Regions from separate parts of the Homo sapiens genome. Here regions 2, 3 and 4 are each reported to be linked to region 1. Evidence: microRNA targets listed by miRTarBase, many of them from high-throughput screens and not tested one by one. Region 1 holds a microRNA gene; each other region holds the end of a gene's coding sequence.

Evidence for each region. Region 1 holds the annotated microRNA hsa-miR-3665 (AGCAGGUGCGGGGCGGCG, at 3,239-3,256, opposite strand). A microRNA usually pairs through its seed, bases 2 to 8, with sites in the 3' UTR of a target mRNA and lowers its output. Matches are read on the target gene's strand: a 7mer-m8 pairs with bases 2 to 8, a 7mer-A1 pairs with bases 2 to 7 and ends in A, and an 8mer does both.
Region 2: the mRNA of EVX1 is a reported target of hsa-miR-3665. The part of its 3' UTR that is shown has no 7-base or 8-base seed match.
Region 3: the mRNA of ANGPT4 is a reported target of hsa-miR-3665. Seed matches in the 3' UTR shown: 7mer-m8 at 2,823-2,829, 7mer-m8 at 2,896-2,902 and 7mer-m8 at 4,000-4,006.
Region 4: miRTarBase lists LCLAT1 as a target of hsa-miR-3665. Seed matches in the 3' UTR shown: 7mer-m8 at 3,101-3,107 and 7mer-A1 at 4,026-4,032.

The regions. Positions count from the first base shown.
Region 1 is chr13:77,694,837-77,699,829 of GRCh38, forward strand. It overlaps MIR3665 (microRNA 3665), which reads right to left and starts at 3,280; the gene lies at 3,176-3,280. It overlaps SLAIN1 (SLAIN motif family member 1), which reads left to right and starts at 2,851. Exons shown (of 7, transcript NM_001242868.2): 1 at 2,851-3,703. The coding sequence starts at 3,078. RefSeq lists silencers at 2,609-3,168, 3,369-3,608, 3,769-3,918.
Region 2 is chr7:27,245,543-27,250,535 of GRCh38, reverse strand. It overlaps EVX1 (even-skipped homeobox 1), which reads right to left. Exons shown (of 3, transcript NM_001989.5): 3 at 2,706-4,650. The coding sequence ends at 4,111. It overlaps EVX1-AS (EVX1 antisense RNA), which reads left to right and starts at 3,307. Exons shown (of 4, transcript NR_120507.1): 1 at 3,307-3,575. RefSeq lists enhancers at 664-1,887, 4,099-4,708, 4,709-4,993.
Region 3 is chr20:869,311-874,303 of GRCh38, reverse strand. It overlaps ANGPT4 (angiopoietin 4), which reads left to right. Exons shown (of 9, transcript NM_015985.4): 8 at 1-20; 9 at 1,184-4,404. The coding sequence ends at 1,344. LOC124904854 (a long non-coding RNA gene) reads right to left here and starts at 3,352. Exons shown (of 3, transcript XR_007067485.1): 1 at 3,269-3,352; 2 at 163-1,407. RefSeq lists enhancers at 784-1,284, 1,285-1,785.
Region 4 is chr2:30,640,004-30,644,996 of GRCh38, forward strand. It overlaps LCLAT1 (lysocardiolipin acyltransferase 1), which reads left to right. Exons shown (of 6, transcript NM_001002257.3): 6 at 114-4,222. The coding sequence ends at 616. Among named protein-coding and RNA genes, the nearest start is that of CAPN13, 160 kb to the right of the region's middle.

The DNA.
Region 1 (4,993 bases):
CTGATCGCAAAATTTAAACGTATGAATCTTACTCTAGGAGAAATTTTACTCTGGCCCACTAGCAACTGCTAAGAACCATCATTTTCATGAGTGAACTTGGGCAAGTAACATAACCTTGTAAGCTCATCTGTAAAACTGGGATAATAACAGGCTGTTTCTAGATTTCCTTTGAGAATTATTTTTATATACTCAAGAACCTATGGGTGCTTTTGCGATTCTGTTGCTGGATCTATTTAATGTTCATACACAGTATTAGAAATATATGTGAAAAATACAAATTAAAATAAGTTCATGTGCTTTCTTAAAATTCACTAGAGTGATGATAGTTCTGAAGTGTAATGAATAGAGAGAAACATGCATTTCTTTATCCAGTTTTGAATGTGTGATATGTGGATGTTTCACATTACCTTATGGTGTATCAAATGTATGCTTAAAGCATAAACTTTTAAATGAGACATGCACTTTCATTTTTCATATCCTCTTTGTAAACCTCTGAAATCACCTACATATTTTATTTAAAATCAAAACATTACAATTGAGCAACTACAGCATGCAATTTCTTTCAAAACACAAAGCTTACTAATTTGCATCAAAATAAAAAAATCAAGACTGCTTAATTAAAACCTTGACACCATCAACCTCTTTAATTATACGTTAAAGAGACTGGCATCCTGGGGACACCAACTTGAAATCAGTGTGCATTTTGAGTGTCTCTGGTGTGTGTACATGTGCAATTCACAGAAGGGAAAAAAAGAGGGGCATTAAGAGAAAGCAAAAACATGATTTAAATTTTCTTTAGACATTAATAATTTCACACTTTTAAAATAGGTAGGAAAAGGGCAAATTTGTCTTTTCAGAAGAATAATGCAGACTAGAATTGTAAAACAATGTTTCATCTCTTTTCTATGTCTAAATTTCAATGCATGCTTTCTTTTTAAAGAACAAAGATTTTTATGATAATTATTACTTAGAAAACAGGGTTCAAAAGCTTGGCTACTGCTTGTTGGATGTATATAGACCATATTGGGTAAATGAAGGAGGAAAGGGCTGTCTGTTTCTCTCCTTCTTTAGAGTGTATATAAATTGTGCAGTAAAATGACGGCTTTTCTTTACATCTTAATTCTTGTTGTCTTCACTATTATGTGCCTATTCCCAATTTCTTTCTCTAGTCTGGGACCCAGCAGCTCTTTGTTCTCATTGTGTCTGTCGTCTCCCTTTCTTTGTGTTGCAGGGAGATACTGCTACCCGCATCTGCCACTGAGCATGCGGGAAAAATCCTTCAATAGATTCTTTACTTAGGACTTTCAGTAGTATTACTCCATTTCTCCAGGTTTTGGTAATAACCAAAAAAAATCCTAAAGATATACCGAAACTTGGAAAGGTGATGGGTGATACAGGTGGTTAGGTGGTGGGCTAGCAAGCTGGGACACAGGGAAGGTTAAGGGAGTCATCACACGCATTTAGCTAATTTATGGAAGCGCTCACCAAGCATGTTAAATGCAGAACATCCACCCTGCACACAGAAGCTAGAGATGTAGATTAACAACTGAGAAGATACAAGTGTTTCTGAGCAGGAAGACACAAAACCATATCTGAAACCAATAGATACGATGTGTTAGCAGCTCCAGAGAAATGAGGTACATTGTCACAAAGATTGGTATGTAAAGTCCCTAGCAAGGACTTTCACTAGATAGTATATCATCTGAGGATGAGAACCAGTGGTGTAGATTTTTCTCATAATATAATCTCAGGTTTTCCTCTGATTGTGTTAAACACTCAAAATGCTAAGTCAGTCAGTATTCATTGAACACAACTCGATTAAATTCTTCTGCTTAAAAGCCTCTTTTAAAAAAAGCAGATTTGCTCGTTTTCCAAGTGGTAAGAAATAGCAGGTTTGCAGGTGAGATTAAAGTGTATTGGGTAGAATTCTGAGGTTTTCTGTTTTCTGCTTTCCCACCAGCAAGTCTGACTTTAATAACTTACACATTATTTAATAGAAGGAGCACTAAACAATTTTACTCATATTTCTCCCCATAACCATTTTTGCCTATTGTACTCATTGCCCGCATCACGAGCTCTTAGAATGGTTCCTGGCACAGAGTAGGTGCTCAAAGATCTTTTGTTTGGGGAATGCATGAATATACATAGTATGAAAAAAAAAGCAGTTCTTCTTTTATTGTGACAAACAATGATGGTAACAGTTCAAATTTGACTATTTTAGAATAAATAAGTAAACACTTGTCTCCTTAGCAGCTGGCCACTCTACCTCTTAGAGAGAGGGCTTTCTTCTCTTTCTTCTCGGTCTCCTGTCTCCCACCATTTTGCTTCTCTATTACCAATGAGAACATGAGTGGCATGGTCCCAAAGCCTTTCTGTTCCCCCTATCTCCACTTTTCGGTTTTTAGAATAACGATCCCCAGCCTTTAAGTTTTCTATAGGATTCGTTAGCCAGTGGCTATTAAGTGCTGTCACGGAGCCTAACAGAGAGCTGGGAAGGGAGCAAACCAGCGGGCCGGTGGTGCACTACTCGAGGGCCAGCACCTGCAGCTGCTTCTTTGGGAACCCCCTGGTCCCCGCAACCGCCTCAGAGACCCGCGCAGTTCACTGTCCCACCAAGCGGCAGGAGGAGGTGCTTGTGGCGGGAAAGTTCAGGCCAGGTCCAATCAGGCCCCTGGGATTAGGTAGCGAGGGTGGGTGCGGCTCCCCGGCCCCAACCCGGGCTGCCGGCCCCGCCCCCTGGGTGGGCTTCCCCACGGTTCTCCGCCCCCCCCCCCCCACCCGCCCCCTCGGCGCTCTTGCCCCGCCCCGCTCCGGGGCCGCGGCTAAAACCCGGAGCCGCCGCGACGCCCAGGGGACTGGAGGGACGCACTGAGCATGTGCAGATCAGCTCGGTGGTGGCTGCCGCGGCCGGAGGCGAGGGCCCGGTGCTGATGCGAACCGCCGGCTCGGCCTCAGCCCGCGCGTGGTCGGCCCCCCAGGCCGGGGCGACAGGGAAGGAGCCGTAGCCTCCCCGTGGCCCGAGGAGCCGGCGCGGCGGCGCGCACTCCCCGGCGGCCGCGGCGCCCTCGGGGCCCACGATGATGGCGGAGCAGGTGAAATGCGCCTCGGCAGGGGTCAGCTCTGGAGCGGGCTCCGGGCCGGTGGTGAACGCGGAGCTGGAGGTGAAGAAGCTGCAGGAGCTGGTGCGCAAGCTGGAGAAGCAGAACGAGCAGCTGCGGAGTCGAGCGGCCAGCGCGGCCGCCGCCCCGCACCTGCTGCTGCTGCCGCCGCCGCCGCCCGCCGCGCCGCCCCCCGCTGGCCTGCAGCCTTTGGGTCCTCGGAGCCCCCCGGCCGCCACGGCCACCGCCGCGGCCTCAGGGGGCCTGGGGCTCGGGCTGGCGCTGGGCGCGGGGGGCGGTGGCGGCAGCGGTAGTGGCAGCGGCGGTGGCTCCAGCCCCGCGTTCCCGGGCACCTTCTGCCTGCCTAGCCCCGCGCCCTCCCTGCTTTGCAGCCTGGCGCAGCCACCCGAGGCGCCCTTCGTCTACTTCAAGCCGGCAGCAGGCTTCTTCGGCGCGGGCGGTGGCGGGCCGGAGCCGGGGGGCGCGGGGACGCCGCCAGGGGCAGCTGCAGCGCCGCCCTCGCCGCCCCCCACGCTGCTGGACGAGGTGGAATTGCTGGATCTGGAGAGCGTAGCCGCCTGGCGGGACGAGGACGACTACACCTGGTACTGCCTGGCTCCGCTCCTTCCCCGAGACCCTGGCCTCGGGGGCTTCGGGCACCGGGGAGCGGGGGCGGGGGGCGGACGGGGGTCCCCTCGCGGCAGCCGGGGTGACTCCCCGCGGCTCCCGGAGGGGCCGACCCAGCAGGTGTTGAGCCAGGCGGTGACACTTCCCACGATGAGGCTTCTCATGAAGGCAGAAACCTGTTTTCTAATCGCTCCGACTGCGGATGAACCGGCCCCCCCTTCCCCCCATCTGCCATGGGTTCTGCTATTTGCTGATTGTTGGGTCCCAAGCTCCTCGTTAGCATTAAGTGCAAAATCCATGTCATCTTGTCTTTTTGCTCAGTGCTGCTCTTTTCCCCAGTGTTTTCGGAGGGATGACGGGGGATGGTAGGGGTTGGCCTCTGTCTGCGACTGTTACTGTTCTTTCGTTTTAAACGAACGCTGGACAGGATTTGCGTGCTCTTCCTCCTCGGGTGGCATCGGAAGCCGCGCAGTGATGGATCTCTCTTTATAGAGAGGTTCGTTCTTGCTGTTTGAATTTTGCAGTCGTGTGCCCTTTTGCGTTGCATTTTCATTGAAATCTTATTTTCAGAGACTGACTTGCTTTTTAAAATGGGGTGACCTCACTGGCTTTCCCATAAATAGTGCCAATAAAGAGGACTTTTCTTGGAGTGGAATGAACAGGTGGGAGGGACTTTTTTATTTATTTATTTATTTTTTTACCTAGGAACCAACGAACTGTCTTTAATTTTTTAAATTAAACTGTAGAAGAAAAGTGAGATTAGAGAAGCCTTATTTTCTTATTTCTTGGAAACTTTTTAGCTTGGTTATCAGAAAACTTGAGGCTGACAGCATTTATTCAGTTGACATCTGGTTAGCACTGTCTACTTTCCATGAATGAGTAACTTTAGGGGGAGGCTTGCTGTAGTCCTTCTTTACTTTAGGTCCTTTTTATGTAGGACCCTTTCTGTTTTTCCAAGCTGTGTTTTCATTACTTTCTTTGTGTCTCTGTTGCATGATTGCATGGAAGGGATTGGGAAATGGAGATCCTTACTGGTTTCCTATTGGGAACTGCAGTGTTCCTTTTCCCTTACACTCTGTCATGTGAGAGCTCTAACTGTAAAGTACATTAGTTAATTGGTTTCATTCAAGAATCAAAATATATGGAGTTACAGTAAGCCTTTCAGAGGTGTATTCATCATCCACCTTAATACTTTTTGGCAGCTGTGCAGGTAGCTCAAGGTGTAAAAAAATCAAACAACTCATCACTTTTGGGAACTTTAAGCCATT
Region 2 (4,993 bases), not on the chromosome of region 1:
GGCAGTTTGGCTTCCTGCAAATCAAAAGGAGTAGGTGGAGGCTGACTGAGGATTTCTTTATTAGGGAAGGGGCACAGAAAGAGAACTTTGCCATAACAAATGGTGGCAGGATGGTGGAGGAGGGGGTTGATAATTAGAGAAATGCCAATTTTGTGGCCTCAACCTCCTTTCTCTCCTATCTGTAACCCCACTCCTACTCTTTCCTCTACCATTCTTGGGTGATGATGTATGGAGAGGATGCTAAGATCCCTACTTTGAGAATGCCATCCGTCTGGACACCTTTGGCGGCAACTGTCCACCGCGACACTCACGCTTATTCTCCGGCGGACATATGGTGGCTGGTGTTTCCGCAGTTGGGGAATAATGGAAGCAACCAAGCGGGAGAAGCCTGAGGAACAAAAGAATCTTTTAAACTTTAGTGAAAGGGCCGGGGTTGGGGATGTGGGGGGACACTCGACTTACTGTGAGGACCTGAGCCCAATTTCGGGGTGACTGTCTAAGGCCATGTCCCCCCCGAAAGGCCTAGGGCAAGGAGATGCATTCTGAATCTCTTCTCCCTCAATCCCTGGTCGAGGGAGAGGGACTTCCTGTCTGGAGAGTGCGGGTGCAGGGTTTGAAACTAGGAAGGTGGAGTCAACATAATCACTAAAGAAACCGTTCGTGGGGCATGCCACATTGGGAGACAGGATCAAACTGTAGGACAGAAAAAAAAAAAATACGGACAAGGATGCAGAAACCAAGTAGCGATTTGCTATGTAACTGAGCAATTTAATGCCATAGTTAGGGAGCTGCTAGCCAGAATCATTTTGTCTTCAAGGCTCTGCGGAGCTCATCCTCTTTATCCTGTTGTTTAAAATGAGCATTATCCCAAACATATGCAATGCAATCAGTTTGGTCACACTTACAAGAACACGCTTTAATAAGGCAATCAATCACACGCTAACAAGCCAGCAATTGCCGGGGGCCGGTGCACACTCGGGCTGCGGGGTGGCCAGCCTTGCCCAACTGGGCGAATCTGGGCTGGGCGCTGGACCGCGCTCCCAGGCCCTGCCGGCTGGCCGGGATTGAAGAGCCCTGGGAAAGCGTGAGTCGGGAGTGAGGTGTCAGGCTTCACTGGGGGTTACCTCAGAATCTGTGCCCCAGAACAGGGTAAGAGAAGAGGAAGTGGGAGCCCGGAGCTCATAGCTACATCGGCCACTAATAGCTGTGTAGACCTGGAGCCTCCGTTTTCCCTCCTGCAAAATGGAACCGAGATGAGGCAAAGCTAAGTAGAGACACTGAGAGAGTTGAAAAATGAAAACAACATCATGCTAGGCCCTGGTCTAGCCTTCTCATTTTACAGATAAGGAGGCTGTGATTGTGAAGGGGCAGTATCTTCTTCAAGTCAACTCCCACTTCCTCCCTGCCACCACCCAAATGGAACGTGTCATGCCAGATGGGGTAGCCTGATGCAAGTGGGCTAAGAATATTTGGGGGGAGAGGGGGAGTGAGAAGTCGTGCCTAGCGCCAAACCGCAAACCTTGGCAAAAGGGAAATTTCATTATGAAGTAATGAGTAATTCCTCCTGGCAAGATGTATTGTTATATCTTCCACTTCAATTTGGAGGAAGAGAGGCTCAATTACCCAGAAAATACAGTCAATTAAAGGCTGCTGATTGGACACGAAGCTGGATCATCGATCTTGTACTTTCCAATATCTCTGCAGACACCTCATTTTCCCTCCCTATTAACTGAAAATACGCCTGGCATTAAGGCAACATGCAGCCCATTTACCTGTCGCAAGCAATCTCTGCCCAATATGGAGCAACTGCAAAATTTACCAGGATTTGGCACTCAGGAGCTTTTGGCTGCAGGAGAGGGGGTGCTGGAAACCTCAGGGCACAATTTGCTTGGGAGGGCACCTGCTACTGTGTGCAGGAGGATTTGCTGTGGAACCCAAGGAGGGAGGAGGGCATTTGAGGAGTCTCTATGTGCTGGCAAAGACAGTGGCAGAGGACTCCTCGTGTCTATGCAATCCAGAGCCTCCTGGACTCCCAGAAGGCACCCATCTCTCCCCTGCTTAAGTGGAACTCCACAACCAGCCACATTTGGCTCTCCTGTGGGGGATGCAGGTGCGGGCTGGAAGGTAGCTGCTGAGCACTCCTTTCCTCTTGTCCTAACCCCTCAGAATCCCACCCTCAAGATGACTTCCAGTATGAGGACAATTCAGACCAAGATGATCCCAACCAAGGAGCCTTCCTCCCTGCTGTCCTCCACCCTCAAGTGCAGACCCAGTTTGACCAGAAAACTCAGGTCTCTGCAGTACTCAGGCTCTACTGCCACTGCCCCACTCACCTTCCCTTTGGGCTGGGGTGGAGGCAGGTTGCTCAGAGACCACAACCTGGGTCCCCTTTCTGTTGCTCAAAGGATTGGAACAACTGGAGAAGAAACCACAGGGGTGGGCCCCTGGCAGCACTCTGCTGCCACTTTACCAAGGAACTGTTCCCAACATACCCAAAATTAAGGAAACATGCACCCCAGGGCAGCTTGGAGCCTGTCTTCTCCACCTCCATGCAATGGCTGCTTGGAGCCTACCAGTGACAAACAGTGGCTTGGAAGACTCTGTGGGTCCATCTTTTGGTTCCTTCCCTATTCGAACCCATGGTGGCTGAAATAGCAACTTTAAAATTCAGTTAAGAGCTGCCTGCTGCCACAAAAACTAAAATGTAAAGTGAGAATTATGTCCAGCTTTTATTGCAATATGGTTAACGAATCATAACAGCAAGTTCTTTGGGCTTCAAAGGAAAACCCCAAATCAAACCAAATTCATTCCCTACAGGAAGAACCACTCCCTCTCAGTCAGGGTGAAGCTTGCATTGGGGTTACACGTTCTCCTCTTCCTCAAAAACTGGCTGCAAGGATGAGTGTGGGAGTGAGGATTTGGGAGTGGCTCTAAACAAACCCTGGTGGAGGCCACAGACAGGGTCCCCAAAAGGGACAGAAGGCTCCCACTGGTATCTGAAAGTCAAGCTCCAGTGGTAGCTTGGGAAGAAAATGAGAGAAAGTTGTAAAATACCCAATGCAAAGGGTAGGGCCAGAAAGTTCCTGGTGAAGTGAAGGTGAACAAGCAAAGGATGAAAATTGCCTCTAATTTACCGCCAGATACCGAGAGAGGGAGGTGAAGTTCCCACTCCCTAAGCTCTTCCCTGGGCGCCTTGTTAACAGCTCAGCTCTGGGGTCAGTGGCCAGCTCCATGGTGATCATTATTACACATTCAACATTCACAAACCCTCCTCGCACACATCACTTGCTAATCAGGGTGTGTGCTGGGCCCAGGGAAAAAAGGCTTGGCCTCATAGAAGCGGCAAAGGGCTCCTGGGGCATCTGCAGCCTCCCTGGCCAACAAAAAAGTGGGGGCAGGGAGAGATGGAGCCGCAAGTTGAGAAGTGTCACAAAGCTGGGAATGAGGAAAGAGATCAGGTGCTGGCAGACGCCAGACCCAGAAGATGCTGTGTAGTCGAGGCTCCAGGTCCCATGCCAAGGGGCTGGATTCTCCCTGGTAGTAAATCATCTCTCACTCTCTCCTCCAAATGACTGGTATGTTGCCATCCACCAGCCCCTTGTCATGCCTTGGAAAAGCTGGCAAAGATTAATCTCTACCTGCTCTGCATACACAGCATTTTGTTCAGAGAGACAGCAATTTCCCTTTCCAGTGCTTGGGCCTTGGCTGGGGAGAGGGGGCCCGGTGAGAAGGGAGTGTGAGGTGGAGGGTGAGGGGCCGAGGGGCCGAGGGACTGGATATTGGTTGCTGTTGCTGCTAAGTTTTGTTTAGCTTTGGAGCTACAGCCTCGACCCTGGTGGGGGGCGGTGGGTCCGGAGGCTGCCCCGGAGGAAGGTCTCTCAAGCTCTGCTTCCCTATCCCCACTCCTGCTCCCCAAACGCGCCAGCCACCGCCACTTCCTAGGCTTTCCAATTCTTGCGGCCGGATCCCGCTGGTCCTTTTCCGCCCTCTCCTTTCCCCCTTGGCGTCCTAGGGGCGAGGAGCGAGGAGCGAGGAGCGAGGCTGGCTGAGTCCCGGGGCCGGGGGGTGACCCCACGGGCGTCATGGAGCCGGCAGCCAGCCGGCGGCCCCTTATCTAGTGAGGGGCACCTCCTCCCTCTGGTCCAGCGCGACGGAGGAGGCCTTGCTGAGCACCGAGGGCGCGAAGGTGAGGAAGGAGTCCGAGCGGGAGGTGGAGGCACAGGTGAAGTCCGAGGCGGCGGCAGCCCGGGGCGCCAGCCCGTTGGCCGGGCCGCTGTGACAGGCGAGGCAGGAGCAGGGGCCGCCGGCAGAGGCGCCCAGTCCGTGCGCGGGCCCGGGGTAGAGCGGCGGGTGGCGGAAGGCGCACAGCAGTTCGGGCCGCGGGTAGGGCTGCGACAGCACGCGGAACGTGTCGAGCGGGCGCAGCGAGCCGCTGAAGGGCGAGGCGGCGGCGGAGGCGGCGGATGCGGCGCCCAGGCCCACCGGCGAGTAGTAGGGCAGGGGCAGGTGCGATGGGAAGGGGTAGGGCAGGCCGCCCGCGGCCGCCGCATGGCTCATCATGTAAGTGTAGAAGGCGGGGTCCGCCGGGTGCGGCCACGTCATGGCCAGGCGCTGCCGCTTGTCCTTCATGCGCCGGTTCTGGAACCACACCTGGGGAGAGGAGCGGAGCAGGTTCAGTAGCTGGACTTGGCCCGATGCTCAGAGGCCAGTAGTCTGGTCCCGCTCCGGGGACAGTGTTCGCAGGGCAGGAACAGCCAAAGCAGACACCAGCCGGGTAGAGACCGACCCCACCACCACCACCTGGAGCTGGAATCCCTCCGAGAGAGGTTTGGGGAGTGACTCCAGCCCGCTCCCTCCTTCCTTCTGCCCAGGTGGCCAGGCCCCCGGGGTGCCAGAGGCCAGTGTGTGTATGGGAGGAGCAGTGAAAGGACATGGACTCAATTGGTCTGCGGCCGCAGAGAGCGTGTCCCCAGAAACTTCCTTGTCACCCGCA
Region 3 (4,993 bases), not on the chromosome of region 1:
TGCCCAAGTGATGTCTGGAGGTAGGTGCAGGGTGGGGTGAAGCTCCGCCCACCCACAGGCTCACCCAGATTGACACTCCCATTCCCTCCCCAGGTTCTTGTGCGCCCAGGTGCTGTCAGGAGGATGGGTGCAGGTCTGGGCCTTGCCCACCCATAAGCTCACCTGGCTGTGCCCCTTCGGTGCCTTCCCCCATTGAGTCCTTGAAGTCCCCTCCAGGTCTCACCTCCTCCTAAAGCTGGCACCACCAGTTTTCCTCAGAGACAAGGCTAAAGAAACACTGAGTGCAGGGCCCCGGGGGGGAGGCACCCTATACCCTATCAGTCCCAACCCCAGGCAAGCCGAACCAGGATCAGGAGACCAGAGGGAGGCAGAGGGGCAGCTCCACACCAGCTGTGGCTCAGGCAGTGTTCCTTGGTAGGCACAGAGGTCAGAGAACAGGAAGTGGGGTGAATGGGAGACAGAGACAAAGTAAGAAGAACAGAGACAGGGGGAGAGACCTTCTGAGACACAGAGGACAGATGGAGAAAGAGAGAGACACCAAGGCTGTCAGAGTCATTGAGCAGCAGATGGAGAGCTATACTGGGGCAGAGAAGTACAGAGGGAGATGGGGGAGAAAGACTTAGCCCAAGGAGAGGCCGGGAGACAAACACAGCATGTGAAAGATGGGGGCCCAGAGGAAGGGAGGGCCAGAGACACGAAAGGCAGAGAGGGACAAAGACCATCAGAGAAAGATGAACACAATGGGACACACAGAGACAGACCCACGCACAGAGACCATAAGAGAGAAAGAGATGAACCTGGAGAGTGAGAGACTCAGAGAGAGTGACAGAGACCACTAGAAAGCAGTGAGCAGAGCGATGAGGGGAGGTTGGGGAGCTGGAAAGACAGGTTCAGTGAGGGAGGAAGACAGGGACGCCAAGGGCTCAGGGAGAAGGCCGGGAGGAGCAAGGGGGCTCGAGGAGTGGCCAGAGCCCCTTGCTGCCCTCTAGAGGCCCCGGCTGAGCAGAGGGTCTGTTGTCCACCCCACCCCCACTCCCACCCAGCCCCATCCCCAGCCAGCTGGCTTCCCAGAGGAGGCAACAGCCCCGATTAGTCTTTGTTCTCTTTGGGACACAGGGGCTGCCCTCTTGCCACTGGCTGGGCTCCCACCTCCACCAAGCGCCTGTCCTCCCTCTTCCACCAGGGTGGTGGTTTGACGCCTGTGGCCTGTCAAACCTCAACGGCGTCTACTACCACGCTCCCGACAACAAGTACAAGATGGACGGCATCCGCTGGCACTACTTCAAGGGCCCCAGCTACTCACTGCGTGCCTCTCGCATGATGATACGGCCTTTGGACATCTAACGAGCAGCTGTGCCAGAGGCTGGACCACACAGGAGAAGCTCGGACTTGGCACTCCTGGACAACCTGGACCCAGATGCAAGACACTGTGCCACCGCCTTCCCTGACACCCTGGGCTTCCTGAGCCAGCCCTCCTTGACCCAGAAGTCCAGAAGGGTCATCTGCCCCCCAACTCCCCTCCGTCTGTGACATGGAGGGTGTTCGGGGCCCATCCCTCTGATGTAGTCCTCGCCCCTCTTCTCTCCCTCCCCCTTCAGGGGCTCCCTGCCTGAGGGTCACAGTACCTTGAATGGGCTGAGAACAGACCAAACTTGATTCCCATGACCAATGGTGGGGTTGCAGGCAGGTGGGAATGTATTTGCACATCGGAAGCTGCCCAGATGGCCCAGGTTCTCTCCCTTGGATTGGCAAGAAGGCCATCTCCCATTCTAAGCTCCTGTTCCAAGATTTTCTAGTCTTGAGATGTCCTTGAACTTTCTTTTCAAGTCTGAAGGGGCTGCATCCACCCCTTAGTGGGTGGGTTAATCATTATTTCCCCTTCACACTTCACCACTTCTAGGTTCTAATGACCCTAGATCTCAGGGTCTTTAGACTTCACCACTTCTAGGCTTTACCACTTCACCACTTCTAGGCTCCAATGTTTGGAGCTCAGGGTCTTTAGGAGACCCAAAAGGACATGCTCCTTCACCTCCAGCATGTCCTAGAGGATGTGTCACAGGGAATAACTATGGCTTGTCTCTAAAAGTACCTATGAGCAATGAGAAAAGGAAACAGCAGGTTAAGTCAAAGTGAACAGGCACTCTTCACTGCAGGACTGATCAGAGCCTTTAATATGGCCAAGTGCCTTGTGACTACCCATGAAGGGGCTAGAGTGGGCAGCTTTCTCCAAATTTACTTATTTGAAAATGGGCTCGGTTTGTCCCAGAGCATCTCACAGGACTGTAGATGCTCTTGGACAAAGCTAGTGCTCCCCTGGCATAAGGAGGAGCCCTACGACCCCATCCCCACCCCAGCTATACTCACCCTTTTTGGCTACAAGGGCCACAGTGACAGCCTCAAACAACCTCTAAAAACAACTGGAAATAACCTTTCAGTTAAAACAGATACCATCCCTGAAGAAGGGTCTAGAACTAGGTCCCTGTCTGTGTTATAGGCTCATGTCCTCCAAGGCTCCTTCAAGTCCCAGGAAGCTGATCTCTACCTGGGTGGCTTCCCTTAGGACTCCCTGTAACCTCAACTCCCCCAGGCTCAATTACAGGGACTGTTAGGCAGGACATCTGTCTCCAAGTCCAGATCCTCTCTGCCTCCAAGCCCTAACCCCTAGCCTCCCTCCCTTCCCCATCCAGCAGTGATGCTGCCTCTGTGGTGGTAGGTGGGGAGCTGCAGGGGAGGAGATAAGGCCTCTGCCTGAGTTTGGGAGACCAGGGCCCTCATAGCTTCTTTCAGAGGATGGAGTCAGAAAGGATCCACAGCTACTCTGTCACCTGCCCCCATCACTGTGTCATGCTGTCTGCCCTGTTGTCATCAGCCAACACCCAGGCATAGCCAGGAGCCCACCTGCCCTACCGCCAGGATACACCTCTGTCCTCAGAAGGTTTTCTCCTGGATGAGACTGAGCCAATGGGAATGGGACCCCTTCATCCCCCTGGCTCGCCCCAGCCCTGAGTCCCACTCTCAGCCGATCCCTGAGTAAACCCAGCACAGACTGACTTTGATCTCATTCCTGGGAATTAGCACTCTTCCCCTTCAAGACTCAAAGGACATGGTTGCTAATGGTGGCATTTCAGGCATGATGGGAAATCTTTAGGGGCAGATTGCTGCCCAGAGAGCTCAAATCGCCTTAAGCAGCATTTGCCCAGCAGACCTTTATTTAGCCTCTACTGTGTGCAGTGTGGTGTGGTGGGCAGGGCTTTGGAGTCGGACAAACCTGCTCCAGCTCTGACACTTTGGTCCAGTGGCTCAGCCTCTCAAGGCACCAGTTATCTTCACATCATCAAAGCCTCAGTTTTCCCATCTGTAAAATGGAGATGATAATATTCCTTCCTGGCTGGGCTATGGCAAGGAGGAAATGAGACCATGTATGTCATCTTCTTAATAGAGCCTGGCATGAAGCAGGTGCCTAATAAATGTTTGTCCTCAAAGAGGAGAATGGGGTGAGGAAGGCATTCCCCAGCACATGCCGCCCCTTCTCCTGCACTCAGGTGAGGAAAAGGCATTTTATTTTTGTATCCACATCATTTATTTTTCTATTGTAGTTTCTAGGCTGACTGCAAGCTAGAGAGGAGACAGGGCAAAGCTGTGAGGCCCAGGGACAGAACTCCTCTGGGTGGGTTGAAGGCCCAAGTCCCTCTCTACTCCCATTTTATAAGGGGGCAGGAAGCTGATTTGAGTTATCCTCAGACACCTGTTCTTTATGTAATTTTATTTTATTTTTTTGAGACAGAGTCTCACTCTGTCACCCAGGCTGGAGTGCAGTGGCATGATCTCAGATCACTGCAATCTCTGCCTCCTGGTTCAAGTGATTCTCCTACCTCAGCCTCCTGAGTAATGGGATTACAGACGCCTACCACCACGCCCGGAAAACTTTTGTATTTTTAGTAGAAACGGGTTTTCACCATGTTGGCCAGGCTGGTCTCAAACTCCTGGCCTCATGTGATCCACCTGCCTCAGCCTCCCAAAGTGCTGGGATTACAGGCATGAGCCACCATACCCAGCCTCAGACACCTGTTCTTAAATATTCATCCTTCTTTCTTACCTTCCTTCCTCTTCCATGCCAGGACTCAGGTATAAGGGATAGAAATTCTAGCCCTAAGGAATAAATTGACTCACATAACTGGAAAGTCTAAGGGTAAAGGCAAGTGAGGTTAGATCCAGAGGCTCAAATGATGTCAGCTCCACCTCTCAGCCCCTCCATCTGCCCCGTTGACTTCATTCTCAGCCAGGATCTTTCCTCACAAGAAGGCTCTGGCAGCCCCAGGCTCATGTCCTCCCAGCTCAGCATCCCTGACCCGGGGAGCTCCCTCGTCTCCATGATTCCAGTAAAGGAATGATTTTCTGCAGCCAGGATTGGTCTTGTGTCCATCCCTATGCTTATCACTCTTACTCTGCTTGACCAGACCTCGGTCTCATGATCATGCCTGGCACCAGCAGTGGGGTCAGTGACACCCAAGTCATGACTTCAGGAAACAGGGATGCTAGGCAGCCTTCCCTCGTTCCCTGTCCCTGGCTCTCATCTCTCTTCTCTCCACCTCTGTGCCCTCTCTCGGCCTCCCTGTCCCCAGGTCCTGACCCCAGGATCCAGTTCATCCCAGATTGCCTCTGACTATCAAGGGCACAGCTGTGTCCTGCCCAGGAATATTAGACCCTGTTATCAGTCTGGCTCTGCCATTGGATCAGAGCCCCTGGCCCTCTCTGAACCTCAGTTTCCCATGGACAGAGCACCTAGCAACCTCTGAAAGCCCTTCTGACAGTGAGGCTGACTCACAATGGCTGCAGACAAGACCAACCTGAGGATCCTGGGCAGCACAAGGCACTGTAGAGGGCACGGCTGGTGTGGTCTCGAGCCTAGACTGGGTCTCCTGGGGGCCACAGCTCATAGGTGCCAGCCTCTAGGATACCTGCATCTGCGGGTTCCTATGGAAAACACTTGTCA
Region 4 (4,993 bases), not on the chromosome of region 1:
TGGTTCACACTGTCCTGATTTTTCGGTTTCTGGTGCTGCCCTGCAGTGTGAATCAGCATTATCACCCAAATTGAGCACTGCTTAATCTATGTTTTCATCTTTTCGAAACCCAGGTAAGAACCTTGATGCTGTCCATGATATCACTGTGGCGTATCCTCACAACATTCCTCAATCAGAGAAGCACCTCCTCCAAGGAGACTTTCCCAGGGAAATCCACTTTCACGTCCACCGGTATCCAATAGACACCCTCCCCACATCCAAGGAGGACCTTCAACTCTGGTGCCACAAACGGTGGGAAGAGAAAGAAGAGAGGCTGCGTTCCTTCTATCAAGGGGAGAAGAATTTTTATTTTACCGGACAGAGTGTCATTCCACCTTGCAAGTCTGAACTCAGGGTCCTTGTGGTCAAATTGCTCTCTATACTGTATTGGACCCTGTTCAGCCCTGCAATGTGCCTACTCATATATTTGTACAGTCTTGTTAAGTGGTATTTTATAATCACCATTGTAATCTTTGTGCTGCAAGAGAGAATATTTGGTGGACTGGAGATCATAGAACTTGCATGTTACCGACTTTTACACAAACAGCCACATTTAAATTCAAAGAAAAATGAGTAAGATTATAAGGTTTGCCATGTGAAAACCTAGAGCATATTTTGGAAATGTTCTAAACCTTTCTAAGCTCAGATGCATTTTTGCATGACTATGTCGAATATTTCTTACTGCCATCATTATTTGTTAAAGATATTTTGCACTTAATTTTGTGGGAAAAATATTGCTACAATTTTTTTTAATCTCTGAATGTAATTTCGATACTGTGTACATAGCAGGGAGTGATCGGGGTGAAATAACTTGGGCCAGAATATTATTAAACAATCATCAGGCTTTTAGCGACAAGGAACACACACATTTTTCTTAAAGGCCCAATCCTAACAGACTCCCCGTACCAGAGGCAGATCTGGAACTCGTCAACAACAGCCCGGATCACATGCTGTTACTGGACTGCCCAGGTCACCTCATTGAGGTGAGCGCTGTCCCTCCAGGTACTCAGGCAGGTGGTGCCCAGGCTCCCTCCCTTGGCGTCCTTCTTCCTGCGCCAAACCCATCTCATCCTTAAGATCAGAAAATGGAACCCCCTTTGTCGTGAAACCGATCAAGCATTTTGACAGGAAGCCCTTCATTATTCATAACATTGTATGCTGACCAAGACGTCAGAAGACCACCTGTGCCCTTTTCTCTCGTGGAAGATAAAACCTGGACTCAGGGAGCAACCACAGGCTCTCCACTTTGAAACTTTAGTTTGAATTTTAAAAGATAGGAAGTAATACAGTTTAAGTTCCTTTCTCACACTCAGTATTGCATGCTTAGTGCTGGTTTTCTTACAACATTTTGGCAGGTGTAGCTTTTTCTGTTAAAAATGGTATACATGAAGTCACATACTTTTTTAAAGGAACACTCAGAACATTCTGTCATTCCAGTCAGAAACTGTCTTTTGAAATATTTCTTTACAACCTACCAAAAAAGGAAGGTTGTTTTTTCTACATGTGCTTGGGTATCTAACATCTACCATTAAAACAACAAATGGCTTGCAGACAGGGCAGTAATGGTTTATCCTAAATTACTCAACCCCTTGTAGCCTTGACAAATTTTACCTTAAAACCAAAATGAAACACAAAAATTAATCCTTAATAATGATAGCAAGTGATCTTTCTTTTTAGTTTTAGCCTTCCTTTTTCAATAGTAATATTTAAACCCACTTTTGACCAATTGTTTGCCCAAATATTCTTGTCATTTGGAGTCAGTGGAAAATCCAGCACACCAAGCACCAGTCTTCTTCTGAGGCAAAAGAAAAGTGTTGTCATTTTCACTCTGTTGGAGCTGCACACTTTTTTTTCTTTTTTTTTTTCTTTTTTTTTTTGTCGTGTAAGAAGGATGCTGGTCAGAGCTGCAGAAAATATGAGGCAATTAAAAGTCTTTAGCTGTTAGCAAACCTGTTAGTTTTACTTCTGCATTGAACCAGCCTCAGAAGCTACTTACTGCTTTATGTACTCTTTGGGCATTAATGCCTTCTCTGTAATTATATCTCGTTTTTGCTTGACAGTGACCTACCCAATAATTGCATCGTGCATTGCCATGAAAGGTAAACACATTGTGAACTGAACTTACCAAGCAGATTCTGTGAGAAAGCACTGGTTGAGGCTGAACACTGTTGACACATCATTTTTATTGGAAGAGTATTAACTGGTGCCTCTTCTGAAACACACCAACCCATATTCCTCTGCTCCCCCAAAGCTGTTTCTGATCCTGCTGGGAGCAACTAACTAGTTATTATGCACATCTGCTCCAGACCCAGCTCTTTAACTTCATGGTTTTACAGCTTGTTTTTTCTTTTTCTTTTCTTTTTTTTTTTTTTTTTTTAAAAAAGCACCTTTTTTTGTTGTTTCCCCTTAATAAAAGAGGTTTCTAATTTATGTTTCTCTAAGATTTCCTTTGGTTGTATTTAGAAACACAAATAGTTTTATAATCAGGATTGCATTTGTGCTGGGTAAAAGAGGAGAGCTGTGCTTTCTACCCCAAAGTTGTTGGTAATGGAGCCGGTCTGCCCTTCCTACAAACTCAAGAGGCTCATTGTTCAAGGTGTAACAACATTTAATTGCATGTCCTCTAACGCTTTGAAACCTTTAGAGGGAAGATCCTCATTTTTTACAATTTTGTTCCTTTTCATCATAGAAAACATGTTTAAGATAAAATACAAACTTTACCTACCCCAAATTCATAAAGTACATTTAGTGCTGTATAGCACTAAAACTTAGAGATACAGACACTGTACTTACTTTTTAAGAATTAGAGACAGTAACTCCAAAAATAATTGTCCTTTTTTCTTTCTTTCTTTTTTTACAATAAGGCTCTTGAAAATTGTCATTACTTGTGTTTTCCTATACATTCATCTGTGTGAAAGCCTTTTTCTTCTTTGATTTAAAAAAATTAACTATACAGTTAATGGTTTAGAACTTAGAACTACTTAGAATTAATGCTAAAGTGTCAGGAAGAAATTAATTTAGCTTCAATAATTGTGACTGGCCTCAGGAATTCTCCCTTCCACACCTGCCCACCTCACCTCACTGCACCGCACCGCACCAGAGCCAGAGCAGCTGCTTGTCTGCAGCAGGACACAGTTCCTACATACGTTTCAGTTCTTTCATGGTAAGCTCAATGGACTTTGAATTGTTTACAGTGCTGTATGTCCAATTGTTAAATGTACCATTCTGAACGATGTTAAAGCAAGTGTGGTTTATTTATGGCATGAACCATGTAACTTGAAATATGAACTTACAAGGAGGGGCACTCATTAGGTAACAAGTTCTTACACCAAACTTCCTTGATGAAATAAGCCAAAATAATCCTAAAATTCATTAGAAGAACTTGATAAAAGACTCAAATAAATGTTAGAAAGAGCCCGTAATTTTAGGACTCCTATAAAATTCTTCCTTGTTTGTTAATGCTATTAAAACTCAGATTCAAGGGAAATACCAGCTTCCACTTGAGTCACTTTGAAATAGTTAATTCAACAGCACCATGTTAGAAATATATTGGCAGCCAAGACTCTGAACTCTGCAGAAACATTTGTTTCACCCAGACTTCAAACTCTAGCCCTGACTATGATGCCCCTGTGTGCATTTACAATAAAGACTCCAACGGAGGGAGCCTGTTGGTGTTAAATTGTTTACATTTCTTTATACAAATAATGTGCTTTCAGTGCCTTAGTTACAGCTCCCTTTCTGTTTCTTGTTCCAAGGATTCTGTAGTATGTAGTGTGTTTCTTAGGTAAAGTCTCTTTTTGCTACTGAAAGGGAAATGGTCTCTAAACACTGGTCACTGTAGCAGGTAAACACTACTCTAACGTGGAGAAATGAGCTTCATGCTGAGGTAGTGGTTGCCTTAGAGCTGTTATTTATGCTGTAGAAAACGAAAATGGTTTTGCTACCTGATAAGCTTCAGATTAGATATAGCCCTAAAGTTATCCTGTACCTGCATTAAATTTTCATTTTAGAAGAGAATCTTGGTTTTGGTAATTCATTTTTTTTTAAGATCATTATGTGCAAAACACCAAGTTTTAAAAATAACTCACAGAATGGCCTTAGTTTTCAATGTCTGATGGTATATTTGTGAGTTGTGTTATCTGTAATATACATCCCAGAATAAAGGAGTGAATTAAATAGTTTACATGTGTGTTACGTTCTGTTTTTGCAGGAATAACAAGTAACTGCAAGTTAAGGTGCTACTTTTTTCCCCACAATGCCTTGCATTGCAGTGTCTAGTGTTAAGGAAAAACCTGGCCAGTTAGGTCTCTTTTTTCCACAGATGTCAAGAAAAGTGGCCTAATCAAGAAAACAATGTACTACCTCCATAATAGGAAAAGTCCAGGCACCACAATTGAATTAAGGACTCAACGAATGTCATCAGAACTTGATTTTCCTCCATCTCTTAGCACAGCCTTGCTATTGAGAACAATTTGGTTGTTCCACAAATGTGGGATCTTATATAAATATCAGCATGACCAACTCTTACCTAAGATAAGTGGGACTCTGTGCTCCAGTCCCTGACCTCACGTTGGGGAGTATATAACTATAAAAGCAAATCTTGGACCAAAATCTGACAAATGTATAAAAATGTGCTTAGCAAACAGACAAACACATGAGAATCACGGAGCCTCTTGTAATGGGGCCTTCTGCAATGCCCCACTCTGTCTTCTCAAGTGAGCACTTTGTGTGATAGATTCATGTGGAGGGGAGTCCACAACGTTGTTCCCTGGGAAAGGGGAATGCAGGACCAGAAGAGCACAGACCCGGCCCCAAGAGCGCCAGTCCCACAGACTGGGACATTGGGTTTGTGGGACTCCTGTCCTCCGTTTAAGCAAAAGGAAGAGAAGGGTTTTGTTTCTCACCACCTACTTAGCTTCAGCATTATTCATTTCACTGATAAATTATATAAAAG